2 separate regions of the Homo sapiens genome follow, and region 2 is linked to region 1. Evidence: fine-mapped expression QTL. A gene starts in region 1. The other region holds a variant in brackets. All regions are shown on one strand. Distances are between the middles of the regions.

Region 1 (9,147 bases):
TTGCTAATGAGACAACCAAAAATCCTGATACAATACATACGTGAAATGAAAAACGAGTGAAATGATCAGTCGACTTAGTAATGATGGGGTCCAGCATTTAGTATAATGTTAGTCCTACACATCTTCTTTAGCATAATTACCATTGGGTTGGAATCTTTCTTAAGAGAACAGCAGGAGGCATCCTCTAGTTCCTGGGACGATGGGAACTTGCAACAGGATTCCTGAGCAAGAAGATTCTGCAAAGTTGCTTCTTCCGGATTATTACTTGTAGTAGTACCACCTGCTTCCTTGATTTCAACCTAGAAAAAAGCAATAATTATTTTAGAGAACACATGGTGGACACTGGCTCTTGCAGTTGCATAATTTAGAAAATTGAAATCTCAGTGATAAGTAGAAGTTATGGTGAAACCCTGTCTCTACTAGGCATGGTGGCACACTCCCAGCTACCGGAGAGGTTGAGGCAGGAGAACTGCTTGAACCTGGGAGGCGGAGGTTGCTGTGAGCTGAGACAGTGCCATTGCATTCCAGCCCAGCCCCATCACACATTCTTCCAGCATGCTCAGTAGTTTGAATTAGATGTTCTAGTCAATTGTTTTTTCCTCAAAAAGCCCCAAATCCTTGGTAACGTTTTAATATTATTTATGATGTGTTTATAGGAAGATTTGTAATTAGGTAGTAGCCCTTTCCTGCCTTAATAGTAGGACAACAAACATGAAATGGTGGAGAGTAGGGAGTGGCTGCCAGCTTTGTGTTCAAGCTGTCTTCTGTAACAACTGTCAACCCGATGACAAAATTACCAAAGATATGGAGAAATACAGGGATAATACTGAAAATCAATAGAATTTTTAAAAGTAAGAATCCTCGTGGTTAAAAAAAAATTACAATCAGGATTGTTTCAACATTGGGATGCTGCTTTTTACAATCTGTAGGAATGTGAGGAGGACTGGGAAACCCACGCTTTGCATCCTCCCCTCCCCTCCTCCTCCACCTACACTTGCCCGAGCTGCCTGGACCAGAGGACAGTGGGGCTCCCCAAAGGCCAGGAGGCAGGCCACAGAGCCCTTCCAAAAAGATGGTGGCTCTAAGGTAACATACTGAAGACCTCAAATAAAAATCACAGAGCAGGTATCTTTCAAAATGCAGATAGTGACTCAAATTGGAGCTTGTCCAGCCCAATAAAATCAGAGGCCCAAACAAATCATATTTCCCATGTATGGGCAAATCACTCAGCACAGCAGACTAGCATCTAGGTATAAATCTTAAAAGAGATAAAGTTTAGCTATATTTTAAGTAGCTTTATTTAGAAATTTTAAATTTCATATAAATACACATAAAATTTTCTTCTACTTGCTGCTTTGGGGGATGTGCTATGCACGTCATCCCAGTTTAGATTTAACTTATCTCCCTGTAATCAACAAATACTACTATAATAAATATATCATTTCCTCAGACCTATGCAACTAATATCTGAACTACTTATACTAAAATTCCATTTCTGACCTTTCAAAACAAAGGTCAACATGTGGGAATGAATTTCTAGAAGAAGGAAATTAGCAACTGATCCTGAATATTTACTGAAAATAATTCCATTCTGTTTAAACGATAAACATGTCTGTGCTGTATCTGGTCCATTTTATTAATGAATCAGAAAGCAGTCAATAAAAATTTAAAAAGCAAAGTCTCTCCTTTAGTTTGTCAGACCAGCAATCTCTTAAAATTGGATTAAAGAGAATTTTACTATCTTTAACATCAGAGAATTCTCTTGTGTGTGTTTTGTTTGTTTTTTAAGACAGGGTCTCACTCTGTCGCTCAGGCTGGAGTGCAGTGGTGCAATCTCGGCTCACTGCAGCCTTCGCCTCCCAGGTTCAAGCAATTCTCCTGCCTCAGCCTCCCGAGTAGCTGGGATTACAGGTGTGCGCCACCACACCCGGTTAATTTTTGTATTATCTTCCCTGTTCTGATTAATGCTTTCTGACTCCACTCTGTGAGGAAATGAGCCGAGCTAGGACCTACGGGCAGGAGGCGCTGGACACCAATCCGGCTGGGCAGCAAAATGCAGTTCTTAACATTTCAAGCCCTCTGAGAAAGGCTGTGAGAAAGACCTCTGTCCTGGGAAACGGCTGGGGGAACTGGTGAGCTCTATGGCTCCTCTGAGGACAAACAGAGGTCAGTGGAGGCCCCAGCCTCTGCCCATCCTTTTCCTGTACACTAAGGACTGGCAATTACCATAACAGAAAACCGGAAGAGCAGAAATCCAAGCTCCTGCTGCTCTGGCTTATGATACAGGGTCAGGCTCCAGCCATCTCAATACTGACTCAAGCATTGTGTCCCACAAACGCTTCATCTACAACTTACTAAAATGACCTCATGGATGAGTGGTCTCGTTTTCTGAGCTGGGTCCTTTTTGAGGGGTCGAGAACACATTTTCCTGGGACCCTTTGTTTCCTTTGAAAACTCATTAGTTTTGGCAAGAACAAAGCGGAAAATTATCAGCGGTCATCTACAGCTAGAGAGGGCAGTCGGCTGAGAGCTGGCAAGCATTTCTTTAGGCTCTGATTTACATTGCATATGCTTGAAGAGCTATTACTCATTAGCAAAGGGAAGATCTCACATCTTGACTTCAAGGCCCGGAAAATCCAAGTATTAACTCTGAGTCCTTGCTGTGGATTCCAAGCCTGGTAAAGTTAAAGGAAAAAAAAAATGCAAGATGCAAACACGCCAACCCTCCACCACATTGCGTTTGTTTTCACAGACAATAGTTACCAGCAGACAGCGGGCCTCTCTCCTTAAGCCAAGGATAGCAACAGGGCCCAAGGGAACCTACGTCCTAGCTTTCCCCCTTTTTTTGTTGTCCGCCGTCTGCATGGTTAGGTCAGCTTTGGACGACTGGTGCAGGGCAGAATTCCCTCCAGGGGAAAGGGCTTGGCTGGGCCGATGCATGTTGGATTAGGAAGACGACAAAGAGTATACGCTCTACCGAGAATCAGTGACTCCGGTGGGCTGTGTGTGGTGTCACCAGGGAAAATGCTTGTAGAGGGAAATCCTGGGGTACACTAGCAGCCTCAGATGGGTTGGGGAAGGGATGGAGGGGGAGCTGTGCCCATTCCCCAGGCGGTTCTTACTGGGATCATGCGGACGCCCGGGTGGGAGGCTCCTTCCAGGACCCAGGCGCCCAGGGGCAACACCGCCGGGCTGCGGTGCGCGGGTAGCAGCGAGGACAGGAAGTGCACGTTGCAGGCGGGCGGCTGCGGGGCCTGCAGGAGCGCGACGTCCTCCAGCGCGCTGAGCTCTGGGATCCCGGGGTACTCCCCGAGGAGCTCCCCGCCGTCGCTGTCGCCCCCCGCGAGCTTCGCCTTGACCTGGCCCTTGCAGTCGGCGCCCAGCGCGGGGTTGAACGCGTGCAGGACGGGTTCCTTGGGGTCCGCCGGGCCCAGGTACGCTTCTTTGAAGACGTGGAACTCGTCCTCCTCGTACTTCACGGGGGCCTTCAGGCCGATGTTCTCCGAAGCGAACGGACCCTCGGGGCTTAAGAGCTCCGTCACCATCGCATCCTCGGGGCTGGGCAGCCCGCCCGGCAGAGGGCCCTCCTCCATGGCGCAGGGCGGCGGGGCGGGATGGCGGGGGCCGCGCACCTGCAACACGCGGCCAGGTGAGAGGCAGCCAGAGGAGAGGACGAGGGGAGGGGCGGCCAGGAAAGGGGACAGCCAAGGGAGGGGCAGCCAAGGGAGGGGCGGCCAGGGGAGGGGACCAGGTGAGGGGCGGCTAGGGGAGGGGGCGGCCTGGTGAGGGAGGGCCAGGTGAGGGGCCCGGGGAAGGGCGACCAGGTGAGGGGGTCAGGGGAGGGGCGACCAGATGAGGGGCGATTAGGTGAGGGGCGGCCAGGTGAGGGGCGGCCAGGTGAGGAGCGACCAGGGGAGGCGGTCAGGTGAGCGGCGACCAGGGGAGGGGCGGCCGGGGAGGGGGTCACGGGAGGGGCGACCAGGGGAGGGGCGGCCAGGGGAGGGGGCCAGGTGAGGGGCGGCCAGGTGAGGAGCGACCAGGGGAGGGAGTCAGGGGAGGGGCGACCAGGTAAGGGGCGGCCAGGAGAGGGGCCGGCCGGGGTGGGGGTCAGGTGAGGGGCGCCCAGGGGAGGGGGCCAGGTGAGGGGCGGCCGAGGAGGGGGTCAGGTGAGGAGCAGCCAGGGGAGGGGGGGCCAGGTGAGGTGCGACCAGGTGAGGGGCGGCCTCGCCCACGGCCCGCCGCCCTCCGCCCACCCGCAGGGGCCCGACCCGGCCCGGCAGCCCCCATCCCCGCCTGCAGAGCCGAGGCCCAGCCCGGGGACCGCCCCGTCATTCCTCCTCGGAGGGACGCACCTGGGGCCGCCGGGGCTGCCGCAGCGTGGAGCGAGCGGGATGGGGCGTGGGCCGGGCCTCAGGCGCAGGCGGCCGTTGGCGGTTGGAGAAGGGGGAAGGGTGAGGGACAGGAACCTGGGGGGAGGGGAAGAGGCGCCCGGGCAGTGGGCGGGGCCTGGGCGTGGGGCGGAGTCGAGGTCGGGGCGGGGAGGTAAAGGCGGGGCCAGGGAGGTGTGGTGGGCGTGGTCTGGGGCGGGAGGAGACAGAGTCGCGAGGGGCGGGGCCTGGACTGCCGCTGTTGCCAGAGCGGGTCAGGGGAGGCACTCCCAGGTTCAGCCGATCCAGGCTCAGGTGGGGAAACTGAGGTCCCCATCAACTCGGGCAGCGCTAAGTGGGACTGCCTAGCTTGGCTTCTGACCTTGGGCTTCAGTTATATTTTTCTGGCCAGGCGTGGTTGCTCACGCCTGTAGTCCCAGCACTTTGGGAGGCCGAGGCAGGCGGATTACTTGAGGTCAGGAGTTCAAAACCAGCCTGGGCAACATGGTGAAACCCCGTCTCTACTAAAAATACAAAAATTAGCTGGCCGTGGTGGCACGCGCCTGTAATCCCAGCTACTTGGAAGGCTGAGGCAGGAGAATCGCTTGAGCCCGGGAGGTGGAGGTTGCAGTGAGCCGAGATCCCGCCACTGCACTCCAGCCTGTGCCACAGAGCTAGACTCCGTCTCAAAAAAATAAATAAAATAAAATAAAACATTTTTCTACACTCGAGCTCTCAAGACAGATCCCGGCCTGGGACGCTGCGGGTGGACAGAGGGCAGGGGCTTGCACCGCACGTTCCCAGCCTTGCACCCACTCCCGGTCCTTGGTGACGCAGCTTACAGGTGCAACTGATGGAGTTGGTCCCGAAATAGAAGTAACAAATACGGCTGGGCGTGGTGGCTCACGTCTGTAATCCCAGCACTTTGGGAGGCCGAGGCGGGTGGATCACCTGAGGTCAGGAGTTCGAGACCAGCCTGGCCAACATATAGTGAAACTCCGTCTCTACTAAAAAATACAAAAACTAGCTGGGCGTAGTGGCGCACGCCTGTAGTCCCAGCTACATAGAAGGCTGAGGCTTGAACCTGGGAGATGGGGGTTGCAGTGAGCTGAGATTGTGTCACTGTACTCCAGCCTGACCAACAGAGAAAGGCTCCCTCTCAGAAAAAAAAAAAAAAACTCACAAATACAATGAAAGTCTCAAATTTTGGGTGGGGAATGAGCTATTTCATCTTTAAGGAGTCAATAGATATCACTGTTTAATCAAGAGGAGGTGAAAGTTTAATTCAAGTGATGGCGAAAACTGCAAAGGGTGTAGAGGGACTGGTGGGAGTGGGTGCTGGGGAGACAGCCTCAGGTACTGTCTACTCAGGTACTGTTTTGGTAAAAATAAAGAATGTAAAACATCAGCTTTCTAATCTCACTTTTAAAAATTAAATACTTTTCTAAATTTTTAAAGGGTAGTACCCAAGGCACAGCAACACCGTGTACTATTTAGTTGTACATTTAACATTCAAAAATCAAGAAAATTTTGCCTGGGGCTGGGCGTGGTGGCTCATGCCTGTAATCCCAGCACTCTGGGAGGCCAAGGTGGTCAGATCACTTAAAGTCAGGAGTTCAAGACCAGCCTGACTAACATGGTGAAACCCTGTCTCTACTAAAAATACAAAATTAGCTAGGCATGGTGGTGCACACCTGCAATCCCAGCTATTTGTGAGGCTGAGGCAGGAGAATTGCTTGAACCTGGGAGGCGGAGGTTGCAGTGAGCTGAGATTGCACCATTGTACTTTAGCCTGGGCAAAAAGATTGAAACTCCATCTCAAAAATCAAACAAACAAAAACAACAACAACAAAAAACACTCACAGAAGCAGAAAAAATAATAAAAATAATAAATCGAAGAGCCCAAGAATTATGCATAGCTTGAGTGGCCCAAGCGAGAGAGTAACCCACAAGGTTGCACCGTTCATTCGTTTACTAATCAGAATCAGACGTCTACTGAGTAGCATCATGCCAGGCATACACAGCCACCTGTGGGGGTCACCCACGGGTTGCAATCAAGCCTGGAGGCTCTGCACCTGCTGCTCCTAGATGCTTGCTGCCCTGCTGCACTGGCCGGGCTGGCTCCGTCGAGTCTCTCAGGTCTCAGCTCAACCCACTCTAAGTGGGTCAACCTCCCTGCCAGCTACCACCCCCTCCCAATGATCCTCTTAGTTGCCTCAGAACACTTAAAATCCTTCAACTGGTTGGCTTGTTCTCTTTTTCCTCTGTGATATGGTTTGGCTCTGTGTCCCCACCCAAATCTCATCTTGAATTGTAATCCCTCTGTGTCAAGGGAGGGGCCTGGTGGGAGGTGATTGGATCAAGGAGGCGGTTCCCCTACGCTGTTCTTGCAATAAGAAGTGAGTTCTCACAAGATCTGATGGCTTAAAAGTGTTCGGCAATTCCCCCTCACTCTCTCTCCTCTGCTGCCATGTAACAGGTTTCTTGCTTCCCCTTCACCTTCTGCCATGATTATAAGTTTCCTGAGGCCTCCCCAGCCATGCTGAACTGTGAGTCAATTGACTGTCTTTCCTTTATACTTACCCAGTCTCAAGAAGTTCTTTACAGCAATGTAAAAATGGACTAATGAGACAGCCAGAACCTGGTGGGGTCACTGCTGTCTCCCCAGTGCCTAGAACAGGCGCTGATATGGTTTGGATGTGTGTCCCCACCCAAATCTCAGGTTCAGTGGTAATCCCTAATGTTGGAGGTGGGGCCTGATGGGAAGTGACTGGATCATGGGCGTGCATTTCTCATGAACAGCACCATCCCTCTTGCTACTGTCCTCACCATAGAGTGCGTGAGTTCCTGTGAGATCTGGTTGTTCGCAAGTGTGTAAGAGAGCACCTCCTCTCTCTCTCTCAGATCTGGTTGTTTGCAAATGTGTAAGAGAGCACCTCCTCTCTTTCTCTCTCTGTCTCCTTTCACCATGTAGAATGCCTGCTCCCCCTTTGCCTTCCACCATGAGTAAAAAGCTGTTTGAGGCCTCCCCAGAAGCAGATGCCTCCATGCTTCCTGTATAGCCTGCAGAACTGAGAGCCAATTAAACCTCTTATAAATTACCCAGTCTCAGCTATTTCTTTACAGCAATGTGAGAATGGCCTAATACAGGTGCTCAAGAAAAACAGAAAAATGGAATTCATGCATTACTTTTAACATATTTATTGAGCATCTTTTATGTGTCAGGCACTGTTCTCAGCATTGAGGCAATGGAATGGATGAATAAATGCACAGCAAGTGAAAATCAACAGGCTTTTCTTTCCAGCCCAGCACATGAACTTGGTGATGTCCATGGTCTCCTCCAAGGCCTTGTTTCCATATGCTGAGACTTTCCACTTTGTCTCAAGTATCTGAACTTGGTCCTTGACTTATAATCCCCTTAATATAACAAAAGAGACAGAAACAAATCTTGTAGTAGACTGGGGTTAATGTTTTATTAATGATAACCTACATTCACACTGCATTTCTAAGATTTACATCCAAAGAGCATACTGTATTTACATGCACCGGTCAGCCCAAGATAACAAATTCAAACCATGGCTGCGTTAAGACAATGGTTTGTTCCAATTAAATTAAACAGATAATACTCTTATCACCCCCCTTGGACATGTACAATAAGACCCCTCTTTCTCCCCTCAAGGAATATAAAATTGCATTGATAACTGCACTGATGAGCAACAATTACATTTGAAACATTTAAAACCTGAGAGAGAAACCCAAATATGTTTAAGCACTCACGTCTACACTCAAAATGCCCTGTGAACTCTAGTGTAACACAGATTGCTCAGTGGTCAACAGTGCATGATCTAGCTGGCTCTGATAGGGACTGACGCCGGCTGCTGGCTTTTAACGGGAAGTGCTATTCTTGCCCAGGGCAGAGAGAGCTACATCCCCGCTGCCTGCTTGACGGACAGTCAGGGGCTTTTGTTGTTGGTTTGTTTTTGCTTTTTTTTTTAGACGGAGTCTCGCTCTGTCGCCCAGGCTGGAGTGCAGTGGAGCGATCTCGGCTCACTGCAAGCTCCGCCTCCCGGGTTCACGCCATTCTCCTGCCTCAGCCTCCTGAGTAGCTGGGACTACAGGCGCCCGCCACCACGCCCGGCTCATTTTTTGAATTTTTAGTAGAGACGGGGTTTCACCGTGTTAGCCAGGATGGTCTCCATCTCCTGACCTCGTGATCCGCCCGCCTTGGCCTCCCAAAGTGCTGGGATTACACGCATGAGCCACCGCGCCTGGACGCTTTTTTTTTTTTTTTTGTCTTTTGTTTTCATTTTTTCTTGCTTTCAGGAGAAAAAAAATCTTTGGCCCATAAAGGTGGGATTTTTACATCATGAAGTATACATACATAAAACATGCATGTGGGCCGCGCATGGTGGCTCATGCCTGTAATCCCAGCACTTTGGGAGGCTGAGGCAGGTGGATCACCTGAGGTCAGGAGTTCGAGACCAGCCTGACCAATATGATGAAACCCCGTCTCTACTAAAAATACAAAAATTAGCAGGGCATGGTGTTGGGCGTGTAATCCCAGCTACTTGGGAGGCTGAGACAGGAGAATCGCTTGAACCTGCAAGGCAGATGCTGCAGTGAGCCGAGATTGCACCACTGCACTCCAGCCTGGGCAACAAGAGTGAAACTCCATCTCAAAAAAAAAAAAAAAAAAAAAGGCACGTGTTCTCCGGCAAGCACCTTCCATCGACTCCAACAGTTCAGCCATCGCTGTTGTACTATCGGGGTGCAGCACTCT
Region 2 (9,147 bases), 46 kb before region 1:
ATGTGAATCTATAGTTATCGCAAAAGGAAAACTTTAATTTTTAAAGAAACAAGTTAAAATATTTTTGGAAGCCCTGATGTGTTCATTGTTGAATTCTAGCAAACATTTAGGAAATAAATTGTTTTAAATTCTCTATAATCTCTTCCAGAAGATAGAACTGAAGGGAATATTTCCTGACTCATTCTATGAGGCCAGCATAACTCTAATACCCAAACCAGACAAAGACATTAAAAGAAAACTATAGACCAATATCTCTCATGAACATACAAGCAAAAATCCTCAACAAAATACTAGCAAGTTAAATCCAACAATGTGTAAAGAAAATTATATGCCATGAGTAAGTGGAATTTATCACAGGTATGCAAAGCTGGTTTAACATTCAAAAATCAATTGATGTAATTAATCAAATCAACAAGCTAAAGAAGAAAGATCCATTAATTATATCAATGCACACAGAAATAGCATTTTACAAAGTCTAACACCCATTCCTAATAAGAACTAGAAATAGAGGCGAATTTTGTCAACATGGTAAAGAACACCTACTGAAAACCTACAGCTAATATCATAATTAATAGTGAGAAAAGAAGCCAAAGATGTCCCCTCTCATCACTCTTTTAAACATTGTACTGGAATGCCTAGTTAATGCAATAAGATAAGAAAAGGATATACGAAGTTTACAGATTGGGAAGGAATAAATAAAGCTTTGTTTGCAGACGTCATGATCATCTATGTAGAACTCTAAAAGTATCATCAACAACAACAACAAATGTCCTGGAATTAATAAGCAATTATAGCAAAGTTGCAGGATACAAGGTTAATAAACAAAAGTCAATAGCTTTCCTATATACCAGCAATGAACAAGTAAAATTTGAAATTAAAAATGCAATACCACTTACGTTAGCACCTCCCAAAAATGTAATACTTAGGCATGCATTTACCAAAACCTATATGAGGAAAACTATATAACTCTGATGAAAGAAATAAATACAGAGCTAAATAAATGGAGAAATATTCCATGCTTGTGGATAGGAAGACTCAATATTGTCAAATATTAGTTCTTCCAAATCTGATGTATAAATTCAACACAATTCCAATAACAATTCTGGCAAGTTATTTTGTGGATAGCAAAAAACTGATTCCTGGGCCAGGCATGGTGGCTCATGCCTATAATCCCAGCACTCTGTGAGGCCAAGGCAGGAGGATCGCTTGAGCCCAGGAGTTTGAGACCACCCTGGGCAACATAGTGAGACCTTGTCTCTATAAATAATAAAAAAAATTAGCCAGGCATGGTGATGTACACCTGTGGTCCCAGCTGCTCAGGAGGCTGAGGCAGGAGGATCAGTTGAGTCTGGGAGGTCAATGCTGCAATGAGCTATGATCACATGCCACTGCACTCCAACTTGGACAACATAGTGAGATCTTGTCTCAAAAACAACAAACAAACAAACAAACAAACAAAAAACCTGATTCTAAAGTTTATGTGGAGAGCCTAAAGACCCAGAATAGCCAAAAAAAAAAAAATGGAAAGAAAAGAACAAAGTTGGAAGGCTACTATAAAGCTACAGTAATCAAGATGGTGTGGTGTTAGTAAAAGAATAGAAAAATAGATCAATGGAACAGAATAGAGGGCCCAGACTCATACAAATAGAGCCAACTGATATCTGACAAAGGAACAAAAGCAATACCATGGAGAAAAGACAGCCTTTCTGACAGAAGGTGCCAAAACAACTGAACATTCATATGCAAAAAAAGACTAGATAAAGCCTCTTATCCCTCTCACAAAAATTCATTCAAAATAGATCATAGACCTAAATGTAAGTTGTAAACTATAAAATTCCTAGAAGATTGGCCAGGTGCAGTGACTCACACGTGTAATCCTAGCACTTTGGGAGGCCAAGGTGGGAGGATTGCTTGAGGTCAGGAGTTCGAGACCAGCCTGGCCAACATGGTGAAACCCCGTCTCTACTAAAAATACAAAACTTAGCCAGGTGTGGTAGCAGGCGCCTGTAATCCCAGCTACTCAGGAGGCTGAGGCAGGAGGGTCGCCTCACTTGAACTCAGGAGGCGGAGGTTGCAGTGAGCTGAGATTGCCCCACTGCACTCCATCCTGGGGGACAGAGAGAGACTCCATCTCAAAAATAAAATAAAATAAAATAAAATCCCTAGAAGATAACACAGGAGAAAGTATGGATGGTCTGGATATGGCAATGATTTTTTAGACACTATGCCAAAGGCATGATCCACGAAAAAAAAAATTGATGAGCTGGACTTTATTAAAAACTTCCGTTCTGCAAAATACACTGTCAGGAGAGTGAGGAGACAAGCCACAGACTGGGAGAAAATATTTGCAAAGGACGTATCTAATAAAGGACTGTTATCCAAAATATACAAAGAATTCTTAAAACCCAACAATAAGAAAAGAAACAACCCAATTAAACAATGAGCAAAAGACCTCAACTGACATCTCACCAAAGAAGATATGCAGTTGGCAAGTATGCATATGGACATATGCTCAACATCATATGTCACTGGGGAACTGCAAATTAAAATGGCAATGAGATACCAGTACACACCTATTAGAACCGGCAAAATCCCAAACACTGACAACGCTATGTGTTGGTGAGGAGGCGGAGCCACAGAAACTCTCATTCACTGCTGGTGGGAATACTCAATGAAACAGCTTCTTTGGAAGAAGATAGTGGTTTCATGCAAAACTAAATATATTCTTATTACATGATCCAGAATCATTGGGTAAATCCATTGATGTTTACCCAAAGGCATTAAAAACTTGCATCCACACAGAAACCTACATACAGATATTTACAGCAGCTTTATTCCGAGTTGCCCAAACTTGGAAGCAACTCAGATGTTCTTCAGGAGGGGAAGGGATGAACAGTGGTATATCCAGACAATGGAATATTATTCAGTGCTAAAAGGAGATGAGCTATCAAGCCATGAAAAGATATGAAGGACATAAATGCATATTACTAAGTGAAAGAAGCTAGTCTGAAGAGGCGACCTACTGTATGATCCCACTTAAGTGACATTCTGGGAAAGGTAAAACTGTGGAGAGAGTGAAAATATCAGTGATTGCCAGGAGTTGTGGGGAGGGAAGGATGAACAGGCAGAGCACAGGGGTGGTTTAGGGCAGTGAGACTGTTCTGTGTGCTGTAACCCTGGATATGTGCCATTGTACATTTGTCAAAACCCATAGCATGTGGAATAACGAGAGGGAATCCTAACGTCAGCATGGGCTTTGGGTTTGTGGTGTATCACTTTGGATGATGGTGTATCACTGTAGGTTCATCAGTTGTAACAAAAGGACGGCTCTGGTGAGGAATGTTGGTAGTGGGGAGGCTGCGGTGTTGGGGGGCATGGATTATATGGGAAATCTCTGCACTTTCTGCTCAGTTTTGCTGTGAACCTAAAACTACCCTAAAAAATACTCTAGTAAAAAAAATAAATAAATAGAGACCCAGCATGGTGGCTCACACCTGTAATCTCAGTGCTTCAGGAGGTCAAGGAGGGAAGATCATTTGAGGCTAGGAGTTTGAGGCCTGGGCAATATAGCAAGACCCTGTCTCTACAAAAAATAAAAATACAGAAACTTAGCTGAGTATGATGGTGTGAGCCTGTAGTTCTAGCTACCTGGGAGCATTGCTTGAAGCCAGGAGTTTGAGGCTGCAGTGAGCTATGATCGCACCACAGCACTACAGCATAGGCAACAGAGTGAGACTCTGCCTCTATTAAAATATATATATTTCTAGGGAATCATCATTAAAAAGGTTGTCACTGCAGACTCTGTCTTCATAATTCGGTAATAATGTTTCTATAGTCCATCTATTTCCAACAAACATATGAAATGGTTTACAGTAAAAGATGTATGTAATAGTACAAATAAAAAGCATGTTTAAAAAAGTAAAGCTTTATGGAAAAAAGAGAGGGACAGTTAATCCTAAACCTGGGCTAATGTGATTTCTGGTATTGAATAGATTTACTTTTGAATTTCCTGAAAGTCAAGGCAAAATTTAAAATATCAAACATTAAAGTTTTTATTAAAGTTTGTTGTTGAAAAACAAACCAGCTACCATTTTTAGGAGGCTCAAACTTTTTCCTGATAGTCATTTTTAAATATATGAAGAGAACATCCATGCAATGACAGTCTTCAATTCCAGTTTTATCGGTGGCTGGGGCCGGGCAGTGCTCCCTGTGGCTCTCCAGTCTCTGCCGGGGGCCGGGGGTTGGGAGCAGGATGGAGGCAGGGCTGGGGGAAGATGCCTCACGGTGATCCCTCCTGTCGTGCTTCCTCCCTCCTCTGAGGCTAAGGACTCCTGGGGAGAGAGTGCAGCACGGAGACCGCACAGCCGGCCCCATGCACAAAGCTGTGCCCGGTGCCTTCCTAAAGAGCGCGCCGCCTGCAGAACGGGAGGCCTCCTCCCTGCTTCGTCTTCTGCGCCCCCTCCTGCTCTCTGGATCCTCTGGCTGCTCTGATCATTTTATCTTGGATGAGGGTTCAACCTTTGAATTCCCTAAGACAGTATTTTAACTGACTCCTTACGATAACTTGTTTATTATGGTTTGAAACCGCGCCCACACTGAAAGGGGACCAGTGCTGGCAGAACTTCAGGTACTGGTGAGAGGTTTGTAAAGGGATAGGAGCATCCAAGCCGAGATGAAAAATACACCAAGCCTTCTGCTGACCTTCCGCCGCCAACAGCACCTTCTCTCCTAAGGATGCTCCCTGGCCGCCAGACTTTCTGTGCAGTGCGCAGCCTGTGTTCACTGACAGGAAAGAGCGATTTCAGCGCGTGTCATTCTAAACAATGATTTCTTCTCCGTGTCTATGAAAAAACAAGGTTTTTTTTTCTTTCGGATAAACAAAACAAAAACCCAAAACCAACAGATAATCTAACCTTAATCACAAAGGTGGTCCGAGTTATTTAGTAGGTACAGAGTAGAAAGATATGGTTAAGGCTGGGCGCGGTGGCTCACGCCTGTAATCCCAGCTCTTTGGGAGGCCCAGGGGGGCGGATCACCTGAGATCAGGAGTTCAAGACCAGCCTGGCCAACATGGTGAAACCCCACCTCTACTAAAAATACAAAAATTAGCCGGGCGTGGTGGTGCGCGCCTGTAATCTCAGCTACTCAGGAGGCTGAGGCAGGAGAATCACTTGAACCCAGAAGGCGGAGGTTGCAGTGAGCCGAGATCGCGCCATTGCACTTCAGCCTGGGCAACAGAGTGAGACTCCGTCT[CAA/C]AAAAAAAAAAAAAAAAAAAAAGATATGGTTAAATTTGCACAGCTACACTCTCAAATAAGAACATGATATGTTAATTTGTATATCGTTTTAAAATAGCACTGGCTCTCCGCCAAACACATAAGAGATGGGATTTTCTAGCTTTGTAGTCATCTTCTGTACTGTCTCTGGTCAGCATAGTGGCTTTATGCACGTCTGTATCTCGGCTTTCACTTCTCAGACGGGATTCCCTGCAAGTGGCACCTACTCAGTGAATTCTTCTCTGCCGGAAGACCCTGCAGGGCTCGTGCCTGCCCAGGTTGGCTCTTCCCTCACCTCCAGGCGTTAGCTCAGTACACCTGGCCACAGTCAGAGCATCCTTGGCCAGCGCAGGCTCCTGTGCAAAGTGGGGGGCCTGTATCCCCAGCCCCACACTGAGTTCCCTGCTCACACTTCCTCTGGGCTCCGCGGGTGGGCCACACCTGGTTCAGGATCTCCCTAGGCAGCCGTTGCCTCAGGAGAATGCTGGAGGACATTGTTCCCTTTTCCTCCCTCCACTCGGTGCCCCAGGGCTGTGCTGAGGCGCCCGAACCCTTAAGGTGTGGCTGGTGCCAACTGAGACCTGCTGTGAGTACAAGACACCCTGCATTTCAAATATTGGGTACACATAAAGGAATGTGAAATCTCAATCATTTTCATTCTGATTACACATTGAAACGATAGTATTTTGGATACATTGGGATAAATAAAAGATTATTAAAACTAATTTTACCTGCTCCTTTTCAAAGTTTTACATGTAGCTACTAGAAACTTTAACAGTACTCATGTGGCTGGCAGATCTTGCTGTTGGCAGTGTTGCCGAGAGGGACAGCAGGATGGAGGCAGCCCCCCCAGAGGCAGCTCCCAAAGTCCCCATTTCCAGGTCACCTTCCAGCTCCCAAGGGTGAAGGAGGCCAGGTGGCTCCCCCAGCAGTGCGCCTCCCTGTTCGCCGCGATGCTGACAGGACTGAAAGCACACACAGCAAGTGGGGTGTACGGCTGGCTGAGGGTTCCACGTCTCACAATGCATGTCTTTACCTCTGGTTTTCTGCCACAGACTCTGGATCCCAGGGGTCCAAAGGGAATTGCAAAGGGGAAGAATTCAGTCTTCCTTTTCTCCTCTGTGGCTTCCTGTGGCTGTGTTTGCAACTAGACTGTTCCAGACAGCTCCACAAAAGACAGCTTCCTCCCTGGTTGCTTGCTCACTTATGTGCCCAGTGCCTGGGCCCGGCAGCCACACTTCTGTCTCTGCTGCATTTGTACTTGAGTTTCCTGAACACCCTCTAAGTGGCCAACACTAGTAATGAATGCAGAAACATGAAAGAATATTCTCTCAATACATTTCAGGGTGGGTACTCATCAGATGAACACATTTTCAGTTACTAAGTTAATGACAACAATTGAAGACATTGGAAATTTTTATTCATCTTTGCTTTACAACAGAACCAAAAGCGTCAACTTAAGAATTCATTTTACCTGCTGGTTTCCACAAGCTAGTTATGTGAACCATGTTTTACAAACAATAATAATATTACAACAATAATTATGGAGAAGTTAATTGGATAATAGAGCTTTTCCACAATTCAAGTAGAAACACAGAAGAAACTGGATAATTTTAAGTCCTCTAACTCAAGACATGCTGGTGCAAGCCTGGCCTGCGAGGCCCCATTGCCTGCGTCTCCCGGGGGCCTTAGGAAAGACTGACAGTTCGCGTGCCTCTGGGGAAATATCTACGCTACAGAAAATCTTTAGGTGTTCAGTAGTTCTCTAGAGATTTTAAGTGGTATCACAACAGCCCATCCGGAGAACTTATTTCTAAATAATTTGAAAAACAAACAAGAAACCATTAGGGTTTTCATGCAGAGCAGCCTCCAGAGCAACATTCTCTGAGAGGAAGAGTCGACCAGAGTGAGCTCTCCGCAGGGCCTGCTCTGCCCTCCCCTGCCCCGCTCTGCCCTTCGCAGGGCCTGCTGTGCCCTCCCCTGCCCTGCTCTGCCCTCCGCCGCCCTGCAGACACTCTCCCAGGACTATGGGAACCCAAGCTCTCTCCTCTGGGCCAGACAAACAATGCTCAGGCCATGCACCTCCTCAGAAAAGGGGGCATGGGTTGCCACATCTTCAGAGAGCTCTGAGTAAACTCCCTGGGCCCAGGGATGCAGGGGAGCCTGGTTGTTGCTGCAGAGCCAGCCTCATGTTCCCCTAAACATCCTTTCTAAACTAGAGATTTCTAGACTAAGACAAAATCAACATGCATTCACACTTTATACTCTACTCCATTTTCAATCCCTTAGATTTAAACTCAGTGTGGAGAATCTGTGATAAGCACCTTCCAAATTCCTCCAGGATCATCTGCTCTGCCAGGCACTTGGAGCAGTGTTCTTTCTCGGCCTCTTCTCCCTGAGCAAGCAGGCAGGCGCATGTGGCCTCCACCACCTCCCAGGAGATGCATGAGGAAGGCCGCCTGTCAGAAACAGAGCAGTTAAAGGCCGCTCAACAGTGCACCATTTCTACCTACAGTACTATTTATATTCAACAGAACATTGCTTGTCCATGCTATTTTAAAGAACATCATCCACTAAAATCTAACGTTGTCTTCCTCATACTGGAAACTATTAGGCTGGGCACAGTGGTCTGTAATCCCAGCACCTTGGGAGGCCAAGGCAGGAGGATGGTCTGAAGCCAGGAGTTTGAGACCAGCCTGGGCAACAAAGTGAGACCCTTTTTTTTTTTTTGATACTGAGTCCTGCTCTGTTGCCAGGCTGGAGTGCAATGGCACGATCTCGGCTCACTGCAACCTCCAACTCCCTGGTTCAAGTGATTCTCCTGCCTCAGCCTCCTGAGTAGCTGGGATCACAGGCATGCACCACCACACCTGGCTAATTTTTGTATTTTTAGTAGAGACAGGGTTTTGCCATGTTGGCCAGGATGGTCTCGATCTCCTGACCTCATGATCTGCCCTCCTCGGCCTCTCAAAGTGTTAGGATTACAGGCGTGAGCCACCACACCCGGCGGAGACCCTGTCTTAAAAAAAAAAAAAAAGAAAGAAAAGAAAAGAAAGAAAGGATTAACTGGTTTTAGAAGAATAACACAGAGGACAAGTAAATCTGTCCGTTTTTGACATGCCTCTCATGGCGGGTTTGAAATTTCCTCAAAATTAGATTCACTGACGAACCCAGAGGATCCCGGGCTACAGTGTCAAGCACGTGGGCCAGGCAGGAAATTGCAGAAGCAGGACTCTTGGCTGAGGCAGGGCACGGGGACAAGCCGAGCAGCTTTGCTCTGAGTCCTGTCCACGCTGGGTGTCTGCCTGTCCTCCCCGCAGGCCCACGTGCAGCCAGAGAAGGCCAAGGTTCTGAGGACTCGCCTGTCAAACCTTGGGGTCCTGCTGTCAGGACAGCCTTCCCCATCAATGCCGCTTGGAGCTGTGAAAGAGGTTCTGGAAGACAAGTTGAACCGCATCACATAGCGCCAGCTATTCTCCCCACTGAGCTCAGGGGGCAACTGTGGCTTAGCTAGATAGCAACCCAGGTGGCGCTAAGTCGAAAAATTTTCAGGAAAGCTTTATAAAACATTAAAAAGTGTTGGATTATAAAAATAAAGCAAAATGTTGGATTAAAGTCTCTCTATAAAGACAATACACGATGACTTTGGTTGAAGAAGAAAAGATAGGGCTGCCCTTGGGAAAAGAAGGGCTGCTAACACTGCAAGACGAGGCTCCAATGTACAGGCCCCCACCGGACTCCACAGAACACACATCCTGCTGCAGGCGATGACATTTTCACACATCACTTCACAGACAATGCAGCCAGGTTTTGGTAAATTTTTACTGATAAAGACCTCTGTGGGTCAGCTGGGTGCGGTGGCTTACGCCTGTAA

Direction of the effects. Positions count from the first base shown, and alleles are read on the strand shown. Sizes are in standard deviations (SD) of each study's normalised expression.
In carriers of allele C in region 2, the expression in CD4 T cells of the gene that starts at base 4,453 in region 1 tends to be higher than with CAA alone (large effect, 0.83 SD a copy in BLUEPRINT).

What was found. PIP is the estimated chance that this variant, and not a neighbour inherited with it, causes the effect. A credible set is the group of variants that fine-mapping cannot tell apart.
Region 2: its variant is the best candidate, but not a certain one, in a credible set for the expression of TESMIN in CD4 T cells (BLUEPRINT, PIP 0.61).

The regions. Positions count from the first base shown.
Region 1 is chr11:68,747,068-68,756,214 of GRCh38, forward strand. TESMIN (testis expressed metallothionein like protein) reads right to left here and starts at 4,453. Exons shown (of 10, transcript NM_004923.3): 1 at 4,353-4,453; 2 at 3,123-3,632; 3 at 141-299. The coding sequence starts at 3,593. CPT1A (carnitine palmitoyltransferase 1A) reads right to left here. Exons shown (of 19, transcript NM_001876.4): 19 at 7,816-9,147. RefSeq lists an enhancer at 3,580-4,565 and silencers at 4,266-4,555, 4,566-4,685.
Region 2 is chr11:68,700,769-68,709,915 of GRCh38, forward strand. TESMIN (testis expressed metallothionein like protein) reads right to left here. Exons shown (of 10, transcript NM_004923.3): 10 at 6,672-7,732. The coding sequence ends at 7,540. Among named protein-coding and RNA genes, the nearest start is that of GAL, 21 kb to the left of the region's middle. RefSeq lists an enhancer at 5,951-6,709. The variant CAA/C (reference allele first, on the strand shown) is at 5,254.